Homo sapiens: one gene and its partners. The protein of the gene in region 1 purifies or fractionates together with the protein of each later gene. This does not show direct contact. Each region holds a gene or a part of one and is shown in the gene's direction. Other genes may lie near its edges.

Region 1 (6,354 bases):
CCAGGTTTATAGAAGGCTAGAATCACCCTATCCCTGGAAATGGGGTGAAAAGGGAATTTCATCACCTCGACCAAAGTTAGTTAGTCCTGTTACTGGTCCTAAACATCCAAAATTATGGAAGCTTACTGTGGCCTCGCACTACATTAGAATTTGGTCTGGAAATCAAGCTACAGAAACAAGAAATCGTAAGCCATATTATACTATCAACCTAAATTCCAATCTGACAATTCCTTTACAAAGTTGTGTAAAACCCCCTTATATGCTAGTTATAGAAAACATAGTTATTAAACCAGATTCCCAAACTATAACCTGTGAAAACTGTAGATTGTTTACTTGCATTGATTTGACTTTTAATTGGCAGCGCCATATTCTGCTAGTGAGGGCAAGAGAAGGTGTGCGGATCCCTGTGTCCATGGACCGACAGTGGGAGGCTTCGCCATCTTCCATATTTTAACGGAAGTATTAAAAGGAATTCTAACTAGATCCAAAAGATTTTTACTTTGATTGCAGTGATTATGGGCCTTATTGCAGTCACAGCTACTGCTGCAGCTGCTGGAATTGCTTTACACTCCTCTGTTCAAACTGCAGAATATGTAAATGATTGGCGAAAGAATTCCTCAAAATTGTGGAATTCTCAGACCCAAATAAATCAAAAATTGGCAAACGAAATTAATGATCTTAGACAAACTGTCATTTGGCTGGGAAATAGGCTCATGAGCTTGGAATATCTTTTTCAGTTACAGTGTGACTGGAATATGTCAGATTTTTGTATTACACCCCAAGCCTATAATGAGTCTGAGCATCACTGGGACATGGTTAGATGCCATCTACAGGGAAGAGAAGATAATCTTACTTTAGATATTTCAAAATTAAAATAACAAAATTTTGAGGCATCGAAAGCCCATTTAAATTTGGGAACTGAGGCAATCGTGAAAGCTACTGATGGCCTCACAAATCTTAACACTGTCACTTGGTTAAAAACCATCAGAAGTTCCACTATTGTAAATTTCATATTAATCCTTGTATGCCTGTTCTGTCTGTTGTTAGTCCACAGGTGTATCCACCAGCTCCGAAGAGACAGCGACCAGCAAGAACGGGCCATAACGACGATGGCAGTTTTGTCAAAAAGGGGGATATGTAGGGAAAAGAGAGATCCGACTGTTACTGTGTCTACATAGAAAAGGAAGACATAAGAAACTCCATTTTGATCTGTACCCTGAACAATTGTTTTGCCTTGAGATGCTGTTAATATGTAACTTTAGCCCCAACCTTGTGCTCACGGAAATATGTGTTGTATGGAATCAAGGTTTAAGGGATCTAGGGCTGTGCAGGATGTGCCTTGTTAACAAAATGTTTACAGGCAGTATGCTTGGTAAAAGTCATCGCCATTCTCCATTCTCGATTAACCAGGGGCACAATGCACTGCAGAAAGCCACAGGGACCTCTGCCCAGGAAAGCCAGGTATTGTCCAAGGTTTCTCCCCACTGAGACAGCCTGAGGTATGGCCTCGTGGGACGGGAAAGACCTGACCATCCCCCAGCCCGACACCCGTGAAGGGTCTGTGCTGAGGAGGATTAGTAAAAGAGGAAGGCCTCTTGCGGTTGAGATAAGAGGAAGGCCTCTGTCTCCTGCATGCCCCTGAGAACGGAATGTCTCAGTATAATACCCGATTGTACATTCGTTCTATTCTGAGATAGGAGAAAACCGCCCTGTGGCTGGAGGCGAGATATGCTGGTGGCAATACTGCTGTGTTATTCTTTACTACACTGAGATGTTTGGGTGGAGAGAAGCATATATCTGGCCTATGTGCACATCCAGGCATAGTACCTTCCCTTGAACTTATTTGTGACACAGATTCCTTTGCTCACATGTTTTCTTGCTGACCTTCTCCCCGCTATCACCCTGTTCTCCTGCTGCATTCCCCTTGCTGAGACAGTGAAAATAATAATCAGTAAATGCTGAGGGAACTCAGAGACTGGGGCCAGTGCAGGTCCTCCGTACGCTGAGCGCTGGTCTCCTGGGCCCAGTGTTCTTTCTCTATACTTTGTCTCTGTGTCTTATTTCTTTTTTTAGTCCCTCGTCCCACCTGACGAGAAATACCCGCAGGTGTGGAGGGGCAGGCCACCCCTTCAAAATTCTTTATTATACAACATTCAATATGGTCAGTTTCCTCCAGACTGGCTTCTCAAGCTCTTACCAAGTGCCCCCTACCCCAATTTTTTTTTTTTTAACAGAGTCTCTGTTGCTCAGGCTAGAGTGCAGTGGAACAATCTTGGCTCACTGCAGCCTCAACCTCCTGAGCTCAAGTGATACTCCAGCCTCAGCCTTCCAAGTAGCTGGAACTACTGGTGTGTGCCACCACATCCAGCCAATTTTTGTTTTTGGAGGGGGTCTCACTATGTTGCCCAGGTTAGTCTTGAACTCCTGGGTTCAAGTGATCCTCCTGCCTTGACCACTCCCAAAGTGCTGGGATTATAGGCGTGAGCCACTGCACCGGGCCTACCCCAACTTTTTATTTTGACAAGTTTCAAACCCTCACGTGGATTCACTAATTCTTAGCAATTTTGCCACATTTGCTTTCTTTCTGTCATCATGACACTTCACCTCTACATACTTCAGAATGTATTTGCTATGAACAAGGTAATTCCCACACATAACCACAATTATCACACTTGATAAATTTAACATTGATATATCGTTGTCATCTAATATATGGATCATATTCAAATTTCCCCAAGGGTAAAATGTCCTTTAGAGCTGATCTCCCCTACACAATCTTGCATCTAATCCAGGATCACTCATTGAATTTATTTATTTATTTATATTTTATTTTATTTTTGGAGACAGAGTTTCACTCTGTCTCCCAGTCGGAAGTTGCTGGCAATCACAGCTCAGTGCAACCTCCACCTACCCGGGTTCAAGCGATTCTTCGACCACTGCCTCCAGAATAGCTGGGACTACAGGTGTCCACCACCATGTTCAGCAATTTTTTTTTTTTGTATTTTTTAGTAGAGATGGGGTTTTGCTATATTGCCCAGGCTGGTCTTGAATTCCTGAGTTCAAGCAATCCACCGACCTCAGCCTCCCAAAGTGCTGGGATTAAAGGCATGAGCCACTGTGTCTGGCCTGTATTTATTTTTTATGTCTCCTTTAATCTGGGGTAGTTCTTAGCTTTTTCTTAATGTTTTATAACAACGACATCTGTAAAGTGTCCAGACCAATCATTTTGCAGAATCTCTCTCACTTTGATCTCTATTTCCTCAAGACTAGGTGGTGAGTGAACATTTTTTGGGCATTTTGGGGAGGACTACTACAGAAATGTACTCCCCGTGTGTGTGTCCTTCCCAGTGCATCACATCAGAAGGCACACAAGGCCAGTTTGTCCTATTAAGCTTTTTTTTTTTTTTTTTTTTTGAGACTGAGTCTCACTCTGTTGCCCAGGCTGGAGTGCAGTGGTGTGATCTCATCTCACTGCAACCTCCCTGCCTCCTAGGTTCAAGCAATTCTTCTGCCTCAGCCTCCCAAGTAGGTGGGATTACAGGTGCGCACCACTATGCCTGGCTAATTTTTTTGTATTTTTAGTAGAGATGGGGTTTCGCCATGTTGGCCAGGCTGGTCTCAAACTCCTGATCTCAGGTGACCTGCCCACCTCAGCCTCCCAAAGTGCTGGGATTACAGGTGTGAGCCACCACGCCTGGCCATTAAGCTTTGATTCTTTGATTAAGGTGATGTTCACCAGATCAGTCTAGCTTTTGATACTTTTTTTTTTTTTTTTTGAGACAGAGTTTTGCTGTGTCACCGAGGGTAGAGTGCAGTGCTGCAATCTCAGCTCACTGCAACTTCTGCCTCCCAGGTTCAAGCGATTCTCCTGCCTCAGCCTCCTGAGTAGCTGGGATTACAGGTGCATGCCACCACACCCAGCTAATTTTTGTATTTTTAGTAGAGACGGGGGTTGCCCCATGTTGGTCAGGCTGGTCTCAAACTCCTGACCTTGAGATCCACCTGCCTCCACCTCCCAAAGTGCTGGGATTACAAGTGTGAGCCACCGTGCCCGGCCACTTTTGATAATTTAAAAACCTGACTTTCCGAGCAGTCAGAGCAGCTGTAGCACATCTGACCTGCTTTCACCTTCGATCTTCTCTGGGACCACCAAGAATTGAAGGATGGCAGGAAGTGTGAAGAAAGTGGTGAGGCTCTGGCTGGGTGCGGTGGCTCACACCTGTAATCCCCGCACTTTGGAAAGCTGAGGCGGGTGCATCACTTAAGGTCAGGAGTTCGAGACTAGCCTAGCCAACATGGTGAAACCCTGTTTCTACTAAAAATACAAAAATTAGCTGGGCTTGGTGGCATACACCAGCTACTAGGGAGGCTGAGGCACTAGGGACCCTGTGGATCGCTTGAACCAGGAGGCGGAGGTTGCAGTGCGCTGAGATCGCATCGCTGCACTCCGGCCTGGGCAACAGAGTGAGACTCCGTCTAAAACAACACAAAACAATAATAACAACTAAGAGAGTAGCGTGGCTTGGTGGCGGTGTCACTCCTGAGGCCTCTGGGAACAACTCTACAGTTATGCTTTGTCCCGTGCTGCGGAGCCTAGTATGGGGATTATCCCCCGCCATGCGTTGTATCTGAATCCTTGTACGCGCGCCCGGGGGTGTGCATGAAAATGGGCATGTGCGCGGTGCTTATGTATGTATGGGTCTTTTTGCCCGCAGCGGCGCGTCCGCAGGCTTGTTCTGTCCTGTGCTAGCCTTCAAGTTTTGGCACGTCCGTCCGTTTTTCTTCTTTGGCGCGTCCGTTGGGCACTCTGGGTTTGGCTAAATCGTGGACGCTTCTAAAGCGTTTCTGCAGGGAGCTGGTCAGAGTTGTCAAGTGCTCCCCCAGTTCTGGGCCGGCTTGGTACGGTCTACAGCCTCCCTTTCCTTTCCCCACCTCCCCCATGGTGGTTGCACCCATTCGGCCCGGAAGTGCTCGCTTCTCTGCATTACACGCCGGTCAGGATTCGCGACCCGACATGGAGCGTCCCCGCAGTCCCCAATGCTCGGCCCCGGCCTCTGCCTCAGCTTCGGTTACCCTGGCGCAGCTCCTGCAGCTGGTCCAGCAGGGCCAGGAACTCCCGGGCCTGGAGAAACGCCACATCGCGGCGATCCACGGCGAACCCACAGCGTCCCGGCTGCCGCGGAGGCCCAAGCCCTGGGAGGCCGCGGCTTTGGCTGAGTCCCTTCCCCCTCCGACCCTCAGGATAGGAACGGCCCCGGCGGAGCCTGGCTTGGTTGAGGCAGCGACTGCGCCTTCTTCATGGCATACAGTGGGCCCCTGAGGTTCCAGGTCCTTTGCGGCGGCGATCTGGAGGGCGTGGCTACAGGACCCGGGATGCCATTCAGTTACTCATCTTTTATGCTTTCGTCCTGACCTGTCTCAACTAGACTTGCTCCTGCAACCACCATGGGGGTTTTGCATTTACATTTGTGGACCATGTTACAGTTAAGAAAAATCCTGTTTCAGTCCTTATATGTAATAAAATGTTTTATGATGTAACTTGGCCCCAGAATGATTTTGAAGATACATTAAAGGAAAGCCCAAAGCATTTAAAAAAGCCAACCAAGAAAGACTAAAATCTTGGCTCTTGGAATCAGCTGGATCAGGCAAGGGGCTAGAGAATTAGAGCATTAGAAAGGCTCCCACAGCCACCCTGAAATCAGTCCTTTTATGTTAAGCAGGCCACCTGGCTCAGTGCCTACATACTCAACACTAGATTTTACTTTCTCTACAAAAGCTAGAATGTACCTGGTACGTGCTGACATGACCCTAACCCACAGACGATGTAACAGGTCTACCTTTTCTCAGAAAGGATTGTCTCACAACTTGTTCAACGAATTAGTTATGTCATGGTACATACATATAAGTGCGCAATTTTTGTAACATCTTTTATTTGTATACAATTATAAATTACAAACTTGTTTTATTAGGTTTTTTAAAATTTATTTTTCGTCAACTTAGTCCCTTTTATTTACCAGCAGTTTGCTCTGACAGAATAAATTACAAACTATTGTTTTGTTTAATCCCTTTAACCATCATGTCAGGCACACAGGTTGGAGAATATTAGCTCCCATTTTATGGACAGAGTGGAAACACTGTACCCATATTTAGTGTAAGACAGAGCTGGGATATAAGCCTTGGGCTTCCATAGTCACAACTGCTTTTTTGCATAACTTTGTAATACATCATTTTAAAGTAATCTGATTTCACAATGTTTTACAGTATAGGAGTAACATCTATAGCATCTCTTCTTGGCAGGTTACCTCTGGAGAGAACCAATCTAATTACCTCATACGCTGGCACTTTTTTTTTTTT
Region 2 (8,016 bases), about 94 Mb from region 1:
AATTTGTGGTATTAAAATCAGGTATCAATTACTTGATAACTCCTTGACTTTCGATGTTACCCTGGCAGGTTCAAAGGGATGACCTTGATTTTTTTTCTCTTTAGGCTGTGGAACCCTACTAATATTGGATCCAGATGAAGCTGGGCTAAGGCTTTTTAGAAGGTAAGGGGGCTGAAATTATTAAAGGTATATATTGTTGCTATTAAAGCCTTAATAGAATTAGGTTTTGACTCTTTGATTAATGTTTTAATATACAGTATAAAAGGAACCTTGGCGTTTGCATAGGATGAAGCTTATTTTTAGCTGATTGTGGTGGTGCGCACCTGTAGTCCCAGCTATTCCCAAGTCTGAGGCAGAAGGATCACTTGAGGCCGGGAGTTCAAGACCAGCCTCGTGGGCAACATAGGAGGACCCCGTCTCTAAAAGAAATTTTTTTTTTTTATGCACAGAGTCTGGCTCTGTCACCCAGGCTGGAGTACAGTGGCGCCATCTTGGCTCAGTGCAGTCTTCCCCTCCTGGGTTCAAGTGATTCTCCTGCCTCAGCCTCCCAAGTAGCTGGGATTATAGGTGCCCGCCACCACACCCGGCTAATTTTTGTATTTTTTAGTAGAGATGGGGTTTCATCATTTTGGCCAGGCTGGTCTCAAACTCCTGACCTCAGGTGATCTGCCCACCTTGGCCTCCCAAAGTGGGTATTATATGCGTGAGCCACTGGGCCCAGCCTAAAAATTTTTTTAATTTTTAGGCCGTAGTCCCAGCTACTTGGGAAGCTGAGGTGGGAGGATTGCTTGAGTCCAGTTCAAGGCTGTAGTGAGCTGTGATTGGGCCACTACACTCCAGCCTGGATGACAGAACAAGACTCTTTCTCTCAAATAAAAAACAAAACAAATCTGAAGCCTGTCTCTTAGTGTCCACTCATAAATTATAAAATTTAAACATAAAAAAATGTGGAGCAGTATACTGTGTACTATTACATTTTTGGACTACTACATTCCACTGGACTGTTTTTTTTAACCTTTCTGAATCTGTTGCCATATTTGTCAAGTACCTACTCTACTTAACTCCCGTAGTTGTGCAGATTACATGAGATATACGTGTTAAAATGTGTGATAAATTGAAAGAAAAAAAACCATAATTGTTATTTTTTTTGTTGTGTAGCTGCCTATGTAAGTGTTGTATTTTTTTGTTGTTTGTTTTTTCCTAGTGTAGCTTTGACTGGAATGATGGTTTGTTTGATGTGACTTGGAGTGAGAACAACGAACATGTCCTCATCACCTGTAGTGGCGATGGCTCGCTGCAGCTCTGGGACACTGCCAAAGCTGCAGGGCCACTGCAAGTCTATAAAGAACACGCTCAGGAGGTAGGAGGGAAATCTTTCTGGGCTGATTATTTTTCTTTCTTCGACTTTGGTTGAAATCCATTTGGGGATGGACACATGGAGAAATATCTTCAGGGGACAAGTTTAAACGTTAGCATTTCTTATACATACTAGATGTCACTTATTATTTGATTATTCAAACATAAAGTACCTCTTGGCCTAAGGAGTGGGGAAAGAAAAGAAAAGGTCAGTCTTCTCATTAGGCAGAAAGAACACCTCCAGCAGTGTACTCTGGCACCATTTCCTCCTGAGAGGCCCATCACTTTCTTTGTGCTCTAAGAATGTGCTTGCCACATGGTGCCTTAAGGTAGAGGTAGGTGGACTTTTCACATAGACATCACAAGATTGCCTTTGGGGCTTCAGTGAGATTCCCGAGGTGTTTCAGAGTATATTGGAGCAAGAGCATAAAATACTGAGTATGAGGCAGAACTTACTGAAGGGATTTTATATCTAAATCTGGTTCATGTGTCTAGATTTTGTGTGTGTGTATGTATAGCATAGAAAATAGTTTGGGCTTCAGTTGTACTAACATACATGTATATTTTCAGTGAACATAAAGACATCCTCTTTTTGTGTTTTTACCTTAAATGTTTTAAGATTTTCCTTAAGGGAGCAGTACATCCTTCAGATGAAAACTTGCTAATCTACTTTCAAATTTTTGTCCACCACAGTGCCTGGCCCGAGAAGGCCCTCAATAAATGCTTATTAGATGCAAGAATATCAGTCTTTTGTGGTAAAGATTAGTTATGTGAGGGGTCCAGATGTTTTATAGCTGTAGCTATTGACAATCAAGATTTCTAAGATTGTTACTGAAATAATGAAAAATTTTAGTTTCTATTTTAATTATGATAGCTATTTGAATAAATGTAGTTGTAAATTACTATGTTTTCAGGGAATTACTGAATATTAAGACAATTTTGGTAAAGGAGAAATTTTAGTTTCAGGATAATCAATGCACGAATCTCTACAGAACAGTATGTCCAAAATTCAGATACTTTTGTGGAACCTGTGTGAATTTGTGTGTGTGTGTGTGTGTGTGTGTGTGTGTGTGTGTGTGTGTGTCAGGGTCTCACTCTGTTGCCCAGGCTAGAGTGCAGTGGTGCAATCTTGGCTTACTGCAACCTCCACCTTCTGGAATGGGCTCAAGCCATTCTCATGTCTTAGCCACCCGAGTAGCTGGGATTACAGACGTGCGCCACCGTGCCCTGCTAATTTTTGTATTTTTAGTAGAGACGGGTTTCACCATGTTGGCTAGGCTGGTCTTGAACTCCTGGGCTCACATGATCCACCTGCCTTGGCCTCCCAAAGTGCTGGGATTATAGGCGTGAGCCACCGTGCCCAGCCAATTTTTGTGTGTGTGTGTTTTTTTGTTGTTGTTTTTTTTTGTAGAGATGGAGTTTCGCTATGTTGCCCAGGCTAGTTTTTGTGATGTTTGACATCTTTTTATACCACTTGTATTATAATGTATTTCTTTTCCTTCTTTCTTTTTTAAAAAATATTTTTCTTTTCAGAAGTTTTTTTTTTCCTTTTTCTTAAATCTTTGGTGCCTTTTATTATCTATATAAATTCAAGGATGATAACTGACATCATAAAATAATATAGCTAGTTAAGGTAAATTCAATATATTGACTTAATGTTTTTCTTTCAATCAAGTAAAGTCGTTGCTTCATTTATCCTAAAACAGTAATATTCATGAAACAATGGGGTTGATGGCTACTTTAGTATGTACATTTATTTGTTTTTAGTGTACATTGAGATAAGTAAGTAATGAATAAAATAAATGTATGTACCAGTTAAAATAATCTCTGGTGTAACTACTCTCTGGAAAATACTGTTCTAGGATATCCTGGATGGATGCTCACTCAGTCTTTACTTCCTGTCAGTGAAAGTAAATTTCACTTTCTCTTGAGATAACTTATTTGACTTTTAGGTTGTTCTGATTATTAAGAAACTGCTTCTTGTAATCCCAACTCTACCTTCTATAGCAACCAACTGCTGCTTTTAGTGTCTTTCTCTGAAGTGGCAAGACCAGGTCCAGCCCCTCTTGTCCAGGAAACCTCTTGAAAATAGCCATCGTGCTCTCTTCCAGACTGTGCACTTGTCATTTCATTGTCCTGTCCTCAGATGACATGATCTGTACGTCTTTCATCCTTCTGATAGCCTCCTTTGATAATCCTGTTTTTCAACTCCCCTTTCAACATATACCTAATTTATTCCAGAAATGTGATGAAGGGCTAAGCTTTATAAGATTTTACCACCATAGTCTTGAGCCCCTAGCTCTAATAATATTACCTAAAGTGGCTATACATTGTTCTCAGCCATGTCTTAGTGTTAGGTTACTTTGAGTCTGCTAGTAACACACTTACCTCTTTTGTTATTTGAACTGCTATTAAACCAGTTTTACATCATTCTGTGATTTTGCAGCTGATTTCTTGAACCGAAGACACACTTCTGTTTTTTAATTTTTTAAATTTGTTTTGCGTACTGCTATTCTAGTTAGACTTCCTCGTTTTCTTTTCAAATGCACTTTTTGGTAAGCGTTTGTATCAGGATGCCTTGAATGTTAGTGTAATAGAAAACAATTAAATGGCTTCAACAGTCAGAGTTTACTGTTTCACATATTTTGCTTGGTTATGTGAAAAATAAATGAAGATAACCTTTTTAGGTATTTGTTACAGCAGCACCCCTAATTCTTGGCACCAGTTTCTGCCTCAGTCTGTTCAGGCTGCTGTAACAAAGTATTATAGACTGGGTGCCTTATAAAGAACAGAAATTTATTTCTTACTATTCTGGAGGTTGGAAGTCCAAGGTCAGGGTGCCCACATGTTTGGGTTCTGATGAGGGCCCTCTTTTAGGTCAAAGACTACTGCTGTCTTTTCATTGTATCTGCAGGTGGTGGAAAGAGAATGAGAGAGGTTTGGGAAATCCCTTTTATAAGAGCACTAATCCCATTCATGAGGGCTCTACATTCATGACCTAATTACCCCCCAGAGGCCCTACGTCCTAAAACCATTACACTGGGGGGTTAAGATTTCAACATGTGGGTTTTGTGGGGATATATTCAGTCCATTGCATATGCCAGATACTCAAAAATACTTAAAAGGATTTAAGCTCAAATGAGAGTTTTAAGGAGCTAGTAAATATTTGTTGAATAAATTAATAAATGAGGCTGAGTGCAGTGAGTCATGCCTGTAATCCTAACACTTTGGAAGGTCGAGGTGGGCAGATCACTGAAGGCCAGGAGTTTGGGACCAGCCTGGCCAACATGGCGAAAACCCCGCCTCTACTAAAAATAAAAAAATTAGCTGGGTGTGGTGGTGCACACCTGTAGTCCCAGCTATTTGGTGGCTGAGGCACAAGAATCATTTGAGCATGGGAGGTGGAGGTTGCAGTGAGCTGAGTTCGTGCCATTGCACTCCAGCCTGGACAACAGAGTGAGACCCTGTCTTAAAAGAAAGTTATTAAAAAAAAAAGTTGATAATGAACATAGCCAATTTCTGTTTTTTTTTTTTCCACCAGTATGTTCAGGGAAGCTGTGTTGTGAAATAGAAGAGCAACTAATGGGTCATTTTCTTCTGTGGAAGAGAGTATATAATAAAGACGTATAGCATGGTTTTAGTCAATCTTGGATTTGAATCCCAGCTTTGTAAGTTACCTGTTGTGAGACCTTGCGTATGTCACATATTTTTCCTAAACTTGAGTGTTTTTATTTGCAAACTAAGTTTATTAGTAGTCTGTATCACAGACCAGCATTGAATAAATATGAGCTAGTATTATTATTTGCTCTTATTATAATAGGGTTTGAAAAATGTAAAACAAGTTAGAACTTTTCCAGTTACCCACTTTACCACTTGATGGCTATGTGTCCAACAGTCAATTTTCAAGTTGTCAGATGAAGCAAAAAAGAGAAATCCAAGATTTAGATATATTTTAGGCTTTGAGGAGTGAAGGTCTTGGTGAAATGAAAAGAAAGAAAAACATGGACATTATCTGTGTGAATGGTTGCTAAACCTAGCATCGAAGTAGGAATCAAATTCTTCTGTCTATTGTTTAACTGGTGTCTGCAGAGGTCATTATGTCTTTTGAGTCCCATAAAATGCCTTTGGCTTTGCTTATTCTAATGCTGCTGAATATATAATAAAAATTTTTAAAAGTTCAGTGAGAATAGAAAAATAAGAGTGAATTGACAATTTTATTTCACTGCTTTCTGACTTAAAACACTGTGCTACTGAGAGTGAGTTAAAGTGACTTTAAAGATGACATAAATCAATGTAATATATTAATTTCTAATTTTCAGACTAATGAGTTGGCTTATCACAATTTAAAAATGAGTTAAAATTTGTTCTCATAGTCAAATAACAAGGTTTATCAATTTGCTGAATTTTTATAACATATTTGATCCATTGAGGTTTTTGAGCATTGCTTATAAAAACTTATTTTTGACCTAAGTATACAACTATTAGTATTCTGTTATGGAGGAAATGTATTTGCTTATACATTTCAAGAGTTAAAATCTTGTTTACTTTAAAAAATGAATCAATTATTTACTTTTTGATAATGATAGAAGCTGAGAAGTCAATAATGATAGGTATTGTATTAGTCTGTTTTCACATTGTTATAAAGAAATACCTGAGAGTGGGTAATTTATAAAGGAAAGAGGTTTAATTGACTCACAGTTCCACATGACTGGGGAGGCCTCAGGAAACTTAAAATTATGGCAGAAGGTGAAGGGGAAGTAGATAACCTTCTTCACAAGGCAGCAGGAGAGAGAGAAAGAGAGAGAGAGAAAGCAGGGGAAACTGCCACTTTTAAAGCCATCAGATCTTTTGAGAACTCCCTCACTATCACAAGAACAGCATGGGGGAAACTGCCCCCATGATCCGATCACTTCCTACCGGGTTCCTCCCTGGACACATGGGGATTACAATTCAAGATGAGATTTGGGTGGGGATATAAAGCCAAACCATATCATTCCACTCCTGGCGCCTCCCAAATTTCATGTCTTTTTCACATTTCAAAACCAATCATGACTTTCCAACAGTCCCCCAAAGTCTTAACTTATTCCAGCATTAACCCAAAAGTCCAAGTCCAAAGTCTCATCTGAGACAAGGCAAGTCCCTTTTGCCTATGAGCCTATAAAATAAAAAACAAGTTAGTTACTTCTAAGATACAGTAGGGCTATAGGCATTAGCTAAATGTTTCAAATGGGAGAAATTGGCCAAAACAAAGGGGCCACAGGCCCCATGCAAGTCTGAAACCCAGCAGTGCAGTTACTAAATCTTAAAGCTCTGAAATGATCTCCTTTGACTCCATATCTCACATCCAAGGGGTAGGCTCCCATGGCCTTGGGCAGCTCTACCCTTGTAGCTCTGAAAGGTGCAGTCCTTATGGCTGCTTTCACTGGCTGGCATTGAGTGCCTGTGGCTTTTCCAGCTGTACAATACAAGCTGTCAGTGAATCTACCTTTCTGGGGCCTGGGGGACAGTGGCTCTCTCCTCACAACTCCAGTAGGCAGTGCCCCAGTGGGGACTGTGTGGGGCCTTCAACCCCACATTTTCCTTCTGTACTGCCCTAGCAAAGGTTCTCCATGAGGGCTCCTCCCTTGCAGCAGACTTCTGCCTGGACATTCAGGTGTTTCCATACATCCTCTGAAATTTAGGTGGAGGTTAAACTCTTGTCTTCTAAACTCTTCTTGTCTTCTGTGTACCCACAGACCCAACACCACATGGAAGCTGCCAAGGTTTAGGGCTTGCACCCTCAGAAGCAATGGCTTGAGCTGTACCTTGGCTCCTTTTAGCCATGGCTGGAGCTAGAGCAGCTGGATGCAGGGCACCATGTCTTGAGGCTGCACAGAGCAGCAGGGCCACTCAGGCCCACAAAACCATTTTTCCCTCCTAGGCCGCTGGGCCTGTGATGGGAGGGGCTTCTGCAAATGTCTCTGACATGCCTTGGATACATTTTTCCCATTGTTTTGGCTATTAATATTTGGCTCCTTGTTACTTATACAAATTTCTGCAGCAGGTTTGAATTTCCCCCCAAGAAATAGGTTTTTCTTTTCTACCTCATGGTTAGGTTGCAAATTTTCTGAACTTTTATGCTGTGCTTCCCTTTTAAATATAAGTTCCAAATTCAAATAATCTCTTCATGAATGCATGTGACTATACACTTTTAGAAACAACCGGGTCACTTCTTGAATGCTTTGGTGCTTAGAAATCTCTTTCACCAGACACTCTAAATCATCTCTCTCAAATTCAAGCTTCCACGGATCTCTAGGGCAGGGGCAAAATGCCACCAGTCTCTTTGCTAAAGCATTGCATGAATGACCTTTACTCCAGTTCCCAGTAAGTTCGTCATCTCTATTTGAGACCACCTCAGCCTGAACTTCATTGTTCATATCACTATTAGCATTTTGTTCAGAACCATTTAAGAAGTCTTTAAGAATTTCCAAACTTTCCCACATCTTCCTGTCTTCTTCTGAGCCCTCACACTGTTCCAGCCTCTGCCCGTTACCCAGTTCCAAAGTTGCTTTGACATTTTCAGATTATCTTTATAGCAGTACCTCACTATCCTGGTACCAATTCTCTATATTAGTCCTTTTTCACACTGCTATAAAGAAATACCTGAGGCTGGGTAATTTA
Region 3 (8,016 bases), on another chromosome or scaffold:
ACACACGGTAACAATCTGATCTTTCTTTTCCCCACAATCTTCAGTCCAGCCCTCTATTCCACCCCTCACCTTGAAATACAGCAATATGATATGGCAAGAGTCTTATCCAGCGGATGCCACCCCTAGGTCGGCAATCACTGTTCCACCTCTCTGGGGTGACAGCAGGGCTCACAGGAGGATACCTGGGGAGATGTGCATTTTCAGAAACTCCCATTTCACTTTTAAGGGCAGACAACCTGCCCATCTGTGCTGATTTGGAAAAGCTGGGTGCATGGGCAAGTGAGCGTGGGACCCTCAGGGACAGGAGCTGGTGGATGACCAGGACAAGCTGTTGTATGGCTGGCTCTCCCTGCCCCAAACCCTGATGTTCCAGAGTTGCAAGTGAGCCTGCCAAGGGCTAGTGTCCCGAAGAAAGATCTGGAATGCCTCATCTCTGGTTTTCACAGCTATACTTTAGTGCCCAGAACACCACCGCCTGGCACTGAATGAAAGTTTGTTGTCCACAGGAAATGTGCTGCAGCCTGGGGCCGGGGCAATCATGGCCCGAATCGCCCAGTTTCTGAGGTAAACTTTTCTAGTTCTAGCCATGGGTTGGCCATTTTGACACTTTACTGGGCCCAGGCCCCAGGAAACTCAGTGTGCAGGTTGGGGAGGATAAGGTTGGACACCAGAATGAGGCAACGAGAGTCCTTGGCTCCCTGCTCTTGTGGACTCAACCTCTCCCCTACTTTGAAGTGCTGAGCCACGATACACAAAACCTTTGGGACTGGAGCAGAAGTTCTCTGTAGCTTGATTTTTAGCCAAAGCCAGGTTGTCATTTGCCTTTTGTGAGTGTGGACTCTGTCCTCATTTGTCAGGTGAGTAATCAAGTAAGAATGCTGAAAAGTGACTTTCAGCCTTTTTACTAGTTGAGCTGAGAACTCCAGTCATATCCCACTAGCAGAGACTTTGGGATAGGGCAGAACCATGGGGAAGGAGGACCCTCAGGAGGAGACCTGGTCAACTTTCCTTTAAGCGCCTGCAGGGTAAAGAGTGCTTAAATTATTTTCATGTGTAGATTTAAGAACTGCTTGGCTTTGTACTTCTAGATGCATAAATAAATAAATAGGAACATTAGCTAGTGAAGGAACAGGAAAACAACCCTCTAGGAACTGGGAGAGGTTTAGACTGCCCAGCCTGTAGTTCAAGGCCCCCTACAATCTGGCTCCAGACTTACCTTCCAGCCTCATCTCCTAGCTGCTTACTCACCTTGACTTTTCTTCGTTCAGCCGGCTGTGGGCCTACTGTCTTCCCTGATATGGTCATTCTGTCTCCTTGAAGTGCTAGCCCTACCTCCTCTTTCTGCCCTAGACAGAAAGACAAACCCTGCCTAAACACAGTCTCACCATTTTGGCATGAGTTATCCAGGCTCTCAGGCTGAAATTGAGAGCCCCTTCCTCTCCAGCAGTAGCCATATACTTCCTTGTGATGTGGTTTGCCCTCTTGCCCTATTATTTCAGTCTCTGATAGTTGATTCATTTTCTGTGTGTTGGTTGGGCATCCTCTAGGGCACAGTGTTATAAGCATCGCAGCATCCCTCAGGTGATGCCTTGTGGTAAGTAGGTATTTAGTGAACACTTGGTGGATTGAGTGAAGGAATGGTAACTACCTGCTAGGGAGTTAAGGGACCCTGGAAGGGTCAAACAGGCTGCACAGGAGGCTATCCCCCTGAGAGAGTCTCTGCAGAGCCTGGCCTGGGCACTAGTTCAGAGGTTCCCAACTCTGGCTACACACCAGAATCACCAGGATGCTTCCACTCCCTCAGATTCTGAGTCTGTGGGTCTGAGGAGGTCTGGAAATTTCCCTAGGGCTTTGTACTGTTGGCCAAGGCAGGTTACATCAGGAGGGGAAGCCCTACTAGCTTCCAGGGCTAAGACCAGTATGAGAGTCTTGGGGAACCTACCAGAGCAATGGATGTTAGAATATATGATGCCCATCAGAGTGCTTCGTCTAGGTGGGATCAGGCTTTCAAGAGTCCATGGGAACATGCAGGGTTAGCTATATGATTACTGGTAAGGCCGAGTGGTCCCTGGCCTCAGACTTTAGGCATTTCTTTTGCTCTGGTGCTCTGTCCCAGCAGCAGTTCCTTTTCTCTGTTTTTTGGGGGAAACAGAGATACACAGTTTTCATTTCTGAATCTTCAAAGGGAGAGAGAGAGAAGGATCCCTGTGGCCCAAACAGGCTTCCCTTGCCTTTGGGCTGTGCTTGGTCTTTGATTGAAGATTCTCATAGGAGTAGAAGGGAATGTGCTTGTGGGGCCCTGGGGAGCAAGTGCCTGCAGAGATGGGGTCTGCCCAGTAGCTGCTCACCCCCATTCCATGGATCTGGCCTGGCATGGGAGCAGAGCTGCTGGGTTTGTTCCCCTGCCCTTTACATCCCTTGAGGGGGGCAGTTAGAAGCATAGGACTGCTTTCCATGAGAGCCTGGCATGGAATTGGGGGCTGATTCTACTTTCTCACCTTCTGTTTCAGTGACATCCCGGAGACTGTGCCTTTGTCCACTGTCAATAGACAGTGTTCGTCGGGGCTACAGGCAGTGGCCAGCATAGCAGGTAAGTTATGACTGGGTGGGTGCCTTGGTCCTGGACCTGTGGGTTTGGGTCAGCAAAGTCGCTGTCTGCCGGGCAAGCAATAATTACCATTTCTGAGGACTCTAACCACAGAAAGAGTGCAGGAGCGCCCCCTACCACTGCCCAAAGCCTTTTCTGAACACTCCTGGGTCTTCCATTTCTGAGGCTGGGGCTGAGTCCCATCTAGAGACCAGGTGGGGAAGAGGCTCCACTGCTTCCAGAACAGGTGGACTCTGGCAAAGGATGTTTATGAAATGCTTTTGTTACAGGTGGCATCAGAAATGGGTCTTATGACATTGGCATGGCCTGTGGGTAAGAATTTTTTTCTGCCGGAGCTTATTAACCAACTTGTGACAATAAAACTAATTTTCATCTGAGTTCTCAGAGGCCATGATTTCAGGATTCCCCCCATCCCCTTTAGGCAGCTGGCCACGAGTGGGTTCTCACAAATGCAGGTTAAGAGTGGCTACCAACTCTGGCTGCTCAGGAATCACTCACACCTCTCAGCACTAGCAGGGGAGGGGAATTGGCCTCTAAAAGCTTACTTTCTTGGAAATCTTTCAGGCTGGAAAAGGTGGGAAAACATTTTGAGAAAATCCAGCATTTGGGTTTCCTTTGGGGGCCCTTGTTGATTCATGATGCTGCTGAGAGAGAAGTTGCAGTTTGGGTTCCCTAAAGCCAGGGACAGCGCCTACTGTATAACTAGTTTGTTCATTTTACTAGGCTGTCTGTCCCTTTGTCTCCCCACCTTGGAACCAGTGTGGAAACTTCCAGCTGCTTATGGGCTATGAGGGACATAATTAGATCTGTGGTGGTTTGGTCACTGTCACCTTCACCTAGACTGTGGCTCCATCATTGGCTGCAGCAAATGGAGCTGCAGAAGTTGTATTTGGCAGTGCCTCCAGGGAAGGTCAGGGCACAGGTGCCCAGGCTTGGGTGGGCATCTGGTGCTGGGAGGGCAGGGGAGTAAGGTCTTTGGCAGGCTGGGGGAGGTGAGCAGCCCCAGGGTTCTGACATGCCTCCGCTGCCTTTCACATCCTCTTTAGGGTATTTCTTGAGAGGACGCATTGCTGGCCCCTGTCCCAGGGCTGTGGCAGCTGTCACTGAGTTGTAATGACCTATGTCTACAGTTGTAAATAAAGCCAAAGACCACTCTGCAAGGACTTTGGCTGGGCAAAGGCCACTGCCGTTTGATTTCTCTCATGCTCTTCTATCTTACTGGGTGAGAGGTGGCATGGATAACTTGAGAAGGGCTGGAGCTTTTATGAGTTTCTTAGAGAGTATCTGATTCCCAAGCAGGTTAAGGATGATGGTACTAGGATATTAAGATCTGGGCCAGGCCTGACACCCACATCACAGGCTGACTGTTCTCCATAGACTTTGATCAGCAAGTATTTAACACAGGGCACTCTAGTTGGAAGTGGGCTCTGGGACCAGACTACCTAAATGTGGATCCAGGCTGGGTCACCATGGATAAGTTATACAGTCTCTCTAGACCTCAGTCTCCTGATCTATAAAATGGGGATACCTAGCTCAGCTCTGTTGAAGTTGAGAAGAATAAATGGAGTAATAGCAACAGTTTACACTGTGGAGTATTTGTCTGTCATGTGACTGACACTGAAGCACTCTAATATCTCAAAAGAATTCAGAATAGTGCTGGGCACGTGAAAAGCACTCAGTCAAGGTTATCTGTTATCATCCCTTGAGGTGTTAGGGTCCCCCATGGCCTCAAAGCCCTTTTTTGACCACACTACACTGCCGTCTCCTTCCTCTCAGCTCGTAGCACTTCCTTGTCTATGCAGGTCTGAATGCCCTTTGAGCTCAGCTTTGTGGTTACTTTTATTTTTATTTTATTTATTTATGTTTTTGAGACAGAGTCTCGCTCTGTCGCCCAGGCTGGAGTGCAGTGACACGATCTCATCTCACTGCAAGTTCCGCCTCCTGGGTTTACGCCATTCTCCTGCCTCAGCCTCCCACCCTGGCGCCTGCCACCATGCCCGGCTAATGTTTTGTATTTTTAGTAGAGGCGGGGTTTCACCATGTTAGCCTCATGATCTGCCCGCCTTGGCCTCCCAAAGTGCTGGGATTACAGGCGTGAGCCACCACAGCCGGCCTGTGGTTACTTTCAAATTGTCTCTTCTCCCTTCTGAATTTGTGGGCCCTGAGGGCAGGCCCTGGCTTGTGGATGTGTTTCCTCCTCTGTGGCTGACAGCAGAAGGCTTTTCTCTGGAATTGCCAGTTGGCTGATTTAGCAGTGTATAGGGAAGCATAGCCCTGCCCCCAGGAGTGTTTATTGTGCAGTGCTCTGTCCTGGGGTGGGGGTCGAAATAGAGACAGGGCTCAGTACTCGTGGCTGGGCCTTGCTGGCCAAGTGCCCTGCCTGTGACTCCCAGAGGCCCACTGGTCTTCCTAGGGCTCCCTGGCTATTTCCTAGCACTTGCCAAGTGTTCAGCTATCTCTGGAGGAGTCCTGCTAGGGCCCAGTTCACCTTACCTTCTCCTCCTCTTCCTCCTCCCCAGGGTGGAGTCCATGTCCCTGGCTGACAGAGGGAACCCTGGAAATATTACTTCGCGCTTGATGGAGAAGGAGAAGGCCAGAGATTGCCTGATTCCTATGGGGTGAGTGCTCCCATAGCTCTGTGTGCTTGTGCCCTCTCTGCCTGGGGCAGGGAGCCAAGGAACTTTTATCATCTCTGTGGCTGGTGGTGCCAAGCCTTGGCCTCCTTCCTTTGGGCATGGTCTGCTCCGCAGGGACTTTGGGGATGAGACTTGATGTTGCCCTTGACTTCCATTTCCTGAAGGCCCCAGGTCCTCTCTGTGCCCCCGAGTTTCCAAACATCGCCCACCTTGTCACTCCCACACTGAGGTGCTCAGTCATAGGAAGGACAATGGTAGCTCCACTCCAAAGCCTTGGGGGCCTAGAAAGTTGAGAAGGCAGTGGGAAGCTTGTGACGACAGAACATGCTGGTGAGGGGAATTGGGCCCTGTCAGGTGCAACAAGAAAAGTATGTGGCATTTGGCCGGGTGCGATGGCTCATGCCTGTAATCCCAGCACTTTGGGAGGCCGAGATGGGTGGATCACAAGGTCAGGAGATCGAGACCATCCTGGCTAACACAGTGAAACCCTGTCTCTACTGAAAATACAAAAAATTAGCCGGGCGCGGTGGTGAGCGCCTGTAGTCCCAGCTACTTGGGAGGCTGAGGCAGGAAAATGGCATGAACCCAGGAGGCAGAGGTTGCAGTGAGCTGAGATCGTGCCACTGCACTCCAGCCTGGGTGACAGAGGGAGACTCTGTCTCAAAAAAGAAAAAAAGAAAAGTATGTGGCATTTGTATGGAACACTTTAGCTTCTCTGAGCCTCTGGGCCATCCCCAGGGTCTTTGGGCCAGGAGTCCTGGATCCACTAGACATATGAGGAGACTGAGGCTTGGAGAGGGGCAGTGCCATGGCTTCTTTCACATACTGTATCTCCAAGGGAAGCCTATAAAGCCAGAAGCCCAGGCTGGAAGGCCTAGCTGTGGCTCTAGGTTCTCAGGATAAGCATAGACCCCAGCCAAGGTGACCAGGAAGCTTAGGTTTGGCCTTTCCAGAGGAGATTTGGGAGTCCTCATCTCCCTACATTGCAGCAGTCTTCCTTGAGGCATAGGAGAAGCTGGCCAGGAGTAGCCAACTAGTGCCCCCACCCAGGCCCTCCCCTGCTCCTTTTCTACCCTGCGCTGAGGCAGCTCACCCAGGGAACAAACTCCTTTCTGCAACTGCCCCCATGCAGGCTGCCCTCTCTTGAAGAAAGTCTCTTTGGTGTATGAGCTTCTCAGGATCTGGCCAGCATTGCTGACTTCCCTATCTGTGCCTTTATATCCACTTTCAGGGCAGGCTGTACCATATCCTGAGTCATCACTACTGTCTGTGGCATGGACTGGCCCTTACATCCTGTCCTGCCTACAGCCTTGGGAACCCAAAGTTCCAAGCACAGCTCTACAGCCTGGTCCCTTCCTCTAGGCTGTCAGACCAATGCCCACACTATCTGCTGTTTGTGTTCTAGGATAACCTCTGAGAATGTGGCTGAGCGGTTTGGCATTTCACGGGAGAAGCAGGATACCTTTGCCCTGGCTTCCCAGCAGAAGTGAGTGCTGATTGGGGAGGAATGTTTAAAGGGCTGGAGAGTGAGGTTTTGAGTCTATCTAAGTGGTCTGAAGTGGCACCATTTCGTGGTTACTGCTGGGCAGTGAGTGCTTTCCAGGCCTTGTGCCACCCAGGTTGGGGGTGGGAAGTAGGAAGTGTCAGGGCCACTGTGAGTTGGTAGTACTTCCAGGTTCTATTACTGTCTGTTCACCCTGACTTTGCCCTAGCTAGGCCTCAGTTTCCCCCTCTGTTATTTTCTGGCTGCGGTTTGGGGACTGGACATTGTAGCCTGGAGTGTGGGGCCAGCAATGTTAGGGACTCTGGCATCCTAGCTTCTGGACCATGCTGGGTCTGTGGCAGCATCCTGAGGCAAGAACTGAGGACGATATCAGAGAAACCCCAGGGGCTCAGGCAGGCTAAGATTGGCAAGTCCCGGCTGTCCAGAGAGGAAAGCAAAAGCAGGGAGTGGTATCTGGGCCAGGTGGGCTTCCCTGAGGCAGTGATTCTTAGCCACTTTGGGTCACATAACCATTTGAAAATGTGTTAGAAGCCTTAGATTCCTTCCACTTGAATGTCCCTGGGCACTTACATGCTGCACATATTTGCAAGGGTCACCCTTAAATACCTTGTGCTTTAAAATTGCTTAAATACAAAAATACATGAGTAGTTTAGTATATGTCACTTTAAATAGGCGGAAACTGGGGAATAGATGACATCGAACTGTTGAGTTTGAGCAGAAAAGTTAGCAGAACCCAGCACAGATATTTCTGGGGTTCCATCCTCAGTTTAGCAGAGAGAATCAAGCAGGCTTAATCCCTCTTGGACAAAGGGCTCTAAGTGGAGGCACCACTTCCAAACACCCTTTCCCCCCTTTGAGGTTGGGATTGGCCACGATCTGGAGGTCTGGGGCTGATGGTGAAGAAGGCCCTGTAAGGCCTTAGCCATGCCCTCAGAGCTCCCCCAAAGTCGAGCATGTCCCTGAATTTAGCAGCCTGAGCTTGTGTCTACCCAAATGGATAGGGGTTGGGGGCAGGGAGGAAGGGAACCCCAAGGGAGTCTGAAGCTGGCTGTCCATGGTGCTGGCAGGGCAGCAAGAGCCCAGAGCAAGGGCTGTTTCCAAGCTGAGATTGTGCCTGTGACCACCACGGTCCATGATGACAAGGGCACCAAGAGGAGCATCACTGTGACCCAGGATGAGGGTATCCGCCCCAGCACCACCATGGAGGGCCTGGCCAAACTGAAGCCTGCCTTCAAGAAAGATGGTTCTACCACAGCTGGTGAGACTGG
Region 4 (8,016 bases), on another chromosome or scaffold:
CCAGGCTGGAGTGCGATAGCGCGATCTTGGCTCACTGCAACCCCCACCTCCCAGGTTCAAACAATTCCTGATTCTCCTGCCTCAGTCTCCCAAGTAACTGGGATTACAGGCATGTGCCACCAAGCCTGGCTAATTTTTGTACTTTTAGTAGAGACAGGGTTTCGCCATGTTGGTCAGGCTGGTCTCGAACTCCTGACTTCAGATGATCCACCTGCCTTGGCCTCCCAAAGTGCTGGGATTACAGGTGTGAGCCACCGCGCCCAGCCTATAGTTGTCTTTAAAATGTCTTGTGCTTGCTAAAATGTAGAATCTAAGACCTCATTGGCAGACAGACTGATTGAGAAATATAACCCAGGTTTCTGTATTTTAATAACCTTCCTCAAGCTGGGCGTGGATGTGCACCTGTGGTCCCAACTACTCAGGAGGCTGCGGGGGGAGGATCGCTGGAGCCCAGGAGTTCAAGTCCAGAGATTGTAGTGCAGATCACTTGGACTACACTGGGAAATTCCTCTGTGCCTGCAGTAAAAATCAGCCATGAGAGAGTCCCCCTATCCTTTCTGCCTTTTCTTCCTTCTGATCTGCAGGAGGGGTTTATGTGATAGAAGGCAGCTTAGCATTACCAGGTCTCTCCCTCCTTGAGGAGAGCAGGTGTTCGGGAGCCACACTCAGGGAGCAAACCAGGGGAAAATGTCAGTGTGGTCATGGGCACTCCGACTGGACATGGAATGACTATAGTTGTGGGGGGTGAGGACCTCTTAGATAACTTTTTTTATTTTTATTTTTTTTGAAATGGAGTCTTGCTCTGTTGCCCAGGCTGGAGTGCAGTGGCTCAATCTCGGCTTACTGCAACCTCTGCCTCTGGGGTTTGAGTGATTCTCCTGCCTCATCCTCCTGAATAGCTGGGATTACAGGTGCCCACCACCACACCCAGCTAATTTTTTTTTTTTTTTTTTTTTTTTTTTTTTGGTATTTTTAGTAGAGACAGGGTTTCACCATGTTGGTCAGGCTGGTCTCGAACTCCTGACCTCAGGCAATCTACCCGGCTCAGCCTCCCAAAGTGCTGGGATTACCGGCGTGAGCCACCGTGCCCGTCCTGTTTTGTGTGTTTTTTTTTCTTTTTCTTTTCTTTTTTTTTTTTTTTTGAGACAGAGTCTCACTCTGTCGCCTAGGCTGGAGTGCAGTGGTGCGATCTTGACTCACTGCAACCTGCTGCCTCCTGGGTTCAAGCGATTCTCCTGCCTCAGCCCTCAGCCTTCCAAGTAGCTGGGAGTACTGGTGTGCACCACCATGCCCAGTTAATTTTTGTATTTTTGTAGAGACGAGGTTTCATCATGTTGGCCAGGCTGGTCTCAAATTCCTGACCTCAAGAGAGCTGCCTGCCTCAGCCTCCCAAGGTGCTGGGATTACAGGTGTGAGCCACTACACGTGGCTTAGAACTTTTTTTGACATCAGCCACTTCAAAGGGGATTTCAAACTTGACTCCATATCACTCTCTTCAATGTAATTAATGCAACTGGTTTTTGAACATGCATTACTGCATGCTAGGTACTGTGCCCAATCCAGGGTCACAAAAGAATAAAGCACAAGGCCGGGCGTGGTGGCTCACGCCTGGAATCCCAGCACTTTGGGAGGCCGAGGCGGGCGGATCACGAGGTCAGGAGATCAAGACCATCCTGGCTAACACAGTGAAACCCCGTCTCTACTAAAAATACAAAAAATTAGCCGGGCGTGGTGGCGGGCGCCTGTAGTCCCAGCTACTCGGGAGGCTGAGGCAGGAGAATGGCGTGAACCTGGGAGGCGGAGCTTGCAGTGAGCCGAGATCGCGTCACTGCACTCCAGCCTGGGCAGCAGAACAAGACTCCGTCTCAAAAAACAATAACAACAAAGAATAAAGCACAACAGAGATGAGGATGTTATACCGCTTGCTGGAAAATAGTGTGCATAAGTACTTAGCTACCAGCAACCCGGAAGAAGGGAGTGCGGGATTTGAAGATGTGGAGCCAGTGTGTTGATTTCCAATTTGGTGTTTATCTCTCCGGGGCTGATTTTCTCTAGCATTATTTCATTTGTTTGGTTCTTCTGGGGACAGGTCATTGTTTTTTCAGGCAAAGGATAAGAATTCTGAGACCAGCTTTTTTTTTTTTTTTTTTTTTTTTTTGGTTGGGGGTGGGGGACAGGGACTCGCTCTCTGTCACCCAGGCTGTAATGCAGCAGTGCAATCATAGCTCACTGCAGCCTCGACCTCCAGGCTCAGGTGATCCTCCCACCTCAGCCTCCCAAGTAGCTGTGACTACAGGTGCATGCCACCACACCCGGCTAGTTGTTTTTGTTGTTTTGTTTTGTTTTGTTGTTTTGTTTTCTGTAGAAACGGAGTCTCACTGTGTTTCCCGGGATGGTTTTGAACTCCCAGGCTCAAGCCATCCATCTGCCTCAGCCTCCCACTTTGGGATATATTTTTATATCCCAAAGTGCTGGGGTTACAGGCGTGAGCCACTGCACTCGGCCTCGAGTATCCTTTAGTAGCAGGTTTTCTTTTCAGGCAAGAAGACGTCCCGTCACCCCCTGCACCAGGACCTGCACTATTTCCCCTTCAGGCCCAGCGATCTCATCGTTTGCGCCTGGACGGCGATGGAGCACATCAGCCGGAACAACGGCTGTCTGGTTGTGCTCCCAGGCACACACAAGGGCTCCCTGAAGCCCCACGATTACCCCAAGTGGGAGGTAGGTCTGCCCGGCGGCTGAGTCTTGATCCGAATCTCCTTCGCAGTTTCTGTTTCACATCAGTACCTCTAAAGAGTTTACAAATGAGATGGCATTTCCTTTCTGAGCAAAACATTGTCCTAAGATTTGCAGTGAGGATCAGAGAAAGTTCAAGGATGTCAGAGAAAACATTCATCACACCTATTTTCAACACTTTTTTTGTTTGTTTGTTTTTGAGACAGGGTCTTGCTCAACTCACTGCAACCTCCAACTCCCAGGTTCAAGCCATCCTCCCGCCTCAGTCGCCCTAGTAGCTGGGACTACGGGTGTGCACCACCACGCCCGGCTAATTTTTGTGGTTTTAGTAAAGACAGGGTTTTGCCATGTTGGCCAGGCTGGTCTTGAACTCCTGACCTCAGGTGATCTGTTCACCTCGGCCTCCCTAAGTGCTGGGATTAAAGGCATGAGCCACTGTACCTGCCCTTAACACGTGTTTGAAAGCCAGCCAAGGTGGGGAGCTTGGGTAGGTACTGTATAGGATCCGAGATTGTAAGTCCTAGCTGCAGAGGTAAGACATAAACCCTTCGACCCCAGATGTGTGTGGTAGACACCAAGTCAGTCTTACTCACTAACTGATGGCTCTCAGAGTAAGGAAGGAGAGATTGTCTCCTTGCAACTGCAGAGACCAGCAAAGGATCTGGGGAGGCTGGTGTCTGACCTGAGCCTTGCAGGACAGTGTACAATGTCCCATAGGGAAGAGTCGATATAGGAAGGCACAAGGTCAAGGGCAAGCCTGAACTTGACCAAAGAACAGGAAAGACCCAGGGAGCTTGCAGTCTAGATGGGCTGGGCGCTGGGGGTGTATTTTGGGGAGCAGCAGAGGAGGTGAGCCCAAAAATGTACATTAGGACCAGATTAGAAAAGACTGTTTTACTAACAAGTCTGCAGTTTATTTGGGGGAAGAATGGGAACTTTTTAGTTCAAACTTTTAGGAAGATCGAAGACCCTTTTTGTTTTTTTGTTGTGTTTTGTTTTGTTTTGTTTTTGAGGAGTCTCACTCTGTCACCAGGCTAGAGTGTAATGGCACGTTCTCGGCTCACTGCAACCTCTGCCTCCTGGGTTCAGGTGATTCTCCTGCCTCAGACTCCCGAGTAGCTGGGATTATAGGCGCGCACCACCACACCCAGCTAATTTTTGTATTTTTAGTAGAGACGGGATTTCACTATGTTGGCCAGGATGGTCCTGATCTCTTTAACTCGTGATCCGCCCACCTCTGCCTCCCAAAGTGCTAGGATTACAGGCGTGAGCCACCACACCTGGCTGAAGAGCTTTTAATTAAAAAACAAACAATTAAACAAATAAACAGTTTCATTGAGGTATAATTGTCATGTAAATTGTACATATTTTGCATGTATAATTTGATCATTTTCCACACACACATACCTGTGAAATCATCACCACAATCAAGATACTCCATCCTTCTCCCTGCTCTAGGCAACCACTGAGCTGCTTTCTGTTACTGCAGGTTAGTTTGCATTTTCTAAAATGTCATAGACATGTAATCACATAGTATAGATTTTTTTGTCCCGTTCTGGCTTCCTTCACTCAGTGTAGTGATTTTGAGGTTCATTGATGCTGTTGTGTATGATAGTAGTTTTTTGTTGTTTTTTTTTTTTTTTTTGAGACAGAGTCTCACTCTGTCACCAGGCTGGAGTGCAGTGGCACGATCTTGGCTCACTGCAACCTCCGACTCCCTTGTTCCAGCAATTTTCCTGCCTCAGCCTCCCGAGTAGCTGGGACTACAGGCACAAGCCACCATGCTCAGCTAATTTTTATATTTTTAGTAGAGACGAGTTTTCACTATGTTGGCCAGGATGGTCTCGATCTCCTGACTTCGTGATCTGCCTGCCTCGGCCTCCCAAAGTGCTGGGCTCACCGCGCCTGGCCAACAGTAGTTCTTTCCCTTCCCTTGCTGAGTAGTATTCCATTGCATGGCTGCACCGTGAACCATGGTTTGTTCATCCATTCAGCTGCTGATGCTTGGAAATGTTAAATGCATTTGAGCTCATGAGTGATGGGATCAAATCGGCTCTTCAAGGACAGTAATGTCACGTTCTGGTGCAGGACGCGTTAGAGGTATAGGCATCTAGAAGCAAAGAAACCAGAGAGATGACTATTAACGCGTTAGGTCTAAGGTGAAAAGACCCTGTGGGAGCCAAAGTGGGAGGATCGCTTGAGCCCAGGAGTTCAGGACCAGCCTGGGCAACACGGTGAGGTCTCATTTCTAAAAATAATAATAATAATAATTAGCTGGGCATGGTGGCGCATGCATGTAGTCCCAGCTATTCCAGAGGCTGAGGCAGGAGGATTACTTGAGCCCAGGAATTCGAGGCTGCAGTGGGCTATGTTGGTGCCACTGCACTCCAGCCTGGGTGACAGAGCAAGTTCCCGTATCAAAAGAAAAAGAAAAGATCCTGGGCTGGGCGCAGTGGCTCATGCCTGTAATCCTAGCACTTAGGGAGGCTGAGGTGGGCGGATCACTTGAGGTCAGGAGTTCGAGACCAGCCTGACCAACATGGAGCAACCCTGTCTCTACTAAAAATACAAAATCAGCCTGGTGTGGTGGCGTGCGCCTGTAGTCCCAGCTACTCAGGAGGCTGAGGCAGGAGAATAGCTTGAACCCAGGAGGTGGAGTTTGCAGTGAGCTGAGATCGCGCCACTGCATTCCAGCCTGGGCAACAAAGCAAGACTCCATCTCAAAAAAAAAAAAAAAAGAAAAGAAAAGATCCTGGAATCCCATGATGCTGCGAATGGAAAGAGCCCCCATTGTTAAAGCAGGGAGAATGAGTTGTAGTTCGATAGGAAATGAGGAACATGGTTTTAGGAACTCCTAACTCGTCTGGACACAGTGGCTCACGCCTATAATCTTAACACTTTGGGAGGCCGTGGCGGGTGGATCACTTGAGGTCAGGAGTTTGAGACCAGCATGGCCAAGATAGTGAAGCCCTATTTCTACTAAAAATACAAAAATTAGCCAGGCATGGTGGTGTGTGCCTGTACTCCCAGCTATTCGGGAGGCTGAGGTAGGAGAATTGCCTGAACCTGGGAGATGGAGGTTGCAGTGAGCTGAGATCGCACCACTGCACTCCAGCCTGGGCGACAGAGCAAGACTCCATCTCAGTAATAACAATAATAATAATAATAGAACGTCTCAGATTTCTTGCACCAATAATTAGTGTCAAATGAAAATATGTGAGTGTCTGGATCCTGATATAAAACCATTTAATGTGAAACTCATCAGTGAAGCCAAGGTTTAAAGTTTGGTGCATGCAACTGCAGTGGGCTTTGGCTGACAGAAGGCAAAGGGAAAAGTTTGCAGGGCTTCCAGAGCGTGTGGAGTCTCAGATACCCTGCTCAGATGCAGAGTGGGAGGTATGATTAGCTTAGTGTGGGTCACACATTCACCCTGGCCAGGAGAGAAGGGCTCTGGGTCAGAGTCTCAGCACTGTCTAAGAGGGATGTCGTCATTCCCAGAAGGAACTGGGGATGCTCTTAGGAAGAGGAATGGGCTGCTTCCCTTACCCTGACTCCTAAGGTGCTTCTCATGTCAATTTCTTTAATAAAGACATAACCGCATTACCTAAAGTAGCAACTAATTTGGGAAATAGTTACAAACAAACACAGTGTTTTAATTTACTATTCTTTCATTATTCTGGATGTAACATAAGTGCCTTTGAGCTCAGAAAAATTGAGCATTTTCTCCCCCCTATTTTGGGGAAATAGCTTCTCAGAGACACTCCTGAGTAAGAGATGAAGGATTTATTTAAAGTTCTGGGCGAGGAGGAGAACACACTGGGAACACTCACAGTTTCAGGCTGGAAATGCCCAAGAGATAGGTGGTTGCCTGCATTAACCACAAAAGGCAAAGCTAAGCTAGATCTTCATGTATAATGCAGTCATGAAGGGCAGGTGGAAATTCCACACTGTTCATTTCCTCCAAAAAATCAGTGATTTTAATATCAACATGTGACTTCTTTTTTTTTATTACCATTATTTTTCGAGACAGAGTCTTGCTCTGTTGTCCAGGCTGGAGGGCAGTGGTGTGATCATGGCTCACTGGAACCTCCCCCTCCCGGCTCAATCGATCCTCCCACCTCAGCCTCCTGAGTAGCTGGGACCACAGGCTGGCACCACCACGCCCAGCTAATTTTTGCAGTTTTTGTAGAGATGGGGTTTTGCCATGTTGCCCAGGCTGATCTCAAACTCCTGAGCATAAGCAATTCTCCCAACTTGGCCTCCCAAAGAGATGGGATTACAGGCATGAACCACCATGCCCGGCCAAAATGTGACTCTTAAAAACCAGATATCTGAGAGGCTTTTGTATACTGAAAAAAATGTAAGCATTTAATTTAGACATTTATTTCTCTTGGGAGAGAGAAATGCTTTCTTTCCCTGATGTTTGCTTTCCCTGATGAACCATTGACAATGTTTTTAATTATGGTACTCCCTCAAATGTAGACTTCACTTGCCTCTTGTTCTAGGGGGGAGTTAACAAAATGTTCCACGGGATCCAGGACTACGAGGAAAACAAGGCCCGGGTGCACCTGGTGATGGAGAAGGGCGACACTGTTTTCTTCCATCCTTTGCTCATCCACGGATCTGGTCAGAATAAAACCCAGGGATTCCGGAAGGTAAGCATTCACATTGCTGCACCTGCTGCAGAAGTGTGGGTTAGAAACAAAAATTGTATTCAATTCATTGAATTCAAATTAATTGAATAAAATTTTAATTAAATTGCATTAACATTTTAAAGATTTGTGGCTTTTAACCAACCTGGACTTTAGTCCAGTTTATTTACCAGGAAATATATTTGCTTACCTTGGGCTTTCTGTGCTCTTATCAGTAAGAAGCCAGGTGACCTCAGGATCCTAACCTTGTCAATATTGATTATGGGCCGGGCGCGGTGGCTCATGCCTATAATCCCAGCACTTTGGGAGGCCAAGGCGGGTGGATCACGAGGTCAGGAGATCGAGACTATCCTGGCTAACACAGTGAAACCCCATCTCTACTAAAAATACAAAAAATTAGCTGGGCGAGGTGGCGGGCGCCTGTAGTCCCAGCTACTCGGGAGGCTGAGGCAGGAGAATGGCGTGAACCCCAGGGGGTGGAGTCTGCAGTGAGCCGAGATCGCGCCACTGCACTCCAGCCTGGGCGACAGCGAGACTCCGTCTCAAAAAAAAAAAAAAAAATTGATTATGAAAGCCAGGTGCAGTGGCTCATGCCTGTAATTCCAGCACTTCCGGAGGCTGAGGCGGG

Evidence for each region.
Region 2: the proteins of PEX39 (region 1) and PEX7 purify together in Homo sapiens (affinity purification with mass spectrometry; 3 studies listed by BioGRID and IntAct, with this or other methods). This does not show direct contact.
Region 3: the proteins of PEX39 (region 1) and ACAA1 purify together in Homo sapiens (affinity purification with mass spectrometry; 3 studies listed by BioGRID and IntAct, with this or other methods). This does not show direct contact.
Region 4: the proteins of PEX39 (region 1) and PHYH purify together in Homo sapiens (affinity purification with mass spectrometry; 2 studies listed by BioGRID and IntAct, with this or other methods). This does not show direct contact.

The regions. Positions count from the first base shown.
Region 1 is NC_000006.12:42,889,449-42,895,802, reverse strand, and holds PEX39 (peroxisomal biogenesis factor 39), read left to right. Parts: upstream 1-4,981; 5' UTR 4,982-5,014; coding exon 5,015-5,320; 3' UTR 5,321-5,538; downstream 5,539-6,354. UniProt on the Homo sapiens protein: May be a peroxin involved in the PTS2-mediated protein import pathway.
Region 2 is NC_000006.12:136,825,110-136,833,125, forward strand, and holds part of PEX7 (peroxisomal biogenesis factor 7), read left to right. Parts: intron 1-104; coding exon 105-162; intron 163-1,209; coding exon 1,210-1,360; intron 1,361-8,016. UniProt on the Homo sapiens protein: Receptor required for the peroxisomal import of proteins containing a C-terminal PTS2-type peroxisomal targeting signal. Specifically binds to cargo proteins containing a PTS2 peroxisomal targeting signal in the cytosol.
Region 3 is NC_000003.12:38,126,500-38,134,515, reverse strand, and holds part of ACAA1 (3-ketoacyl-CoA thiolase, peroxisomal), read left to right. Parts: intron 1-506; coding exon 507-564; intron 565-624; exon of another isoform or gene 625-1,025; intron 1,026-2,510; coding exon 2,511-2,590; intron 2,591-2,877; coding exon 2,878-2,920; intron 2,921-5,127; coding exon 5,128-5,226; intron 5,227-6,649; coding exon 6,650-6,730; intron 6,731-7,815; coding exon 7,816-8,006; exon of another isoform or gene 8,007-8,016. UniProt on the Homo sapiens protein: Responsible for the thiolytic cleavage of straight chain 3-keto fatty acyl-CoAs (3-oxoacyl-CoAs). Plays an important role in fatty acid peroxisomal beta-oxidation. Catalyzes the cleavage of short, medium, long, and very long straight chain 3-oxoacyl-CoAs.
Region 4 is NC_000010.11:13,283,065-13,291,080, reverse strand, and holds part of PHYH (phytanoyl-CoA dioxygenase, peroxisomal isoform a precursor), read left to right. Parts: intron 1-2,539; coding exon 2,540-2,721; intron 2,722-7,241; coding exon 7,242-7,391; intron 7,392-8,016. UniProt on the Homo sapiens protein: Catalyzes the 2-hydroxylation of not only racemic phytanoyl-CoA and the isomers of 3-methylhexadecanoyl-CoA, but also a variety of other mono-branched 3-methylacyl-CoA esters (with a chain length of at least seven carbon atoms) and straight-chain acyl-CoA esters (with a chain length longer than four carbon atoms).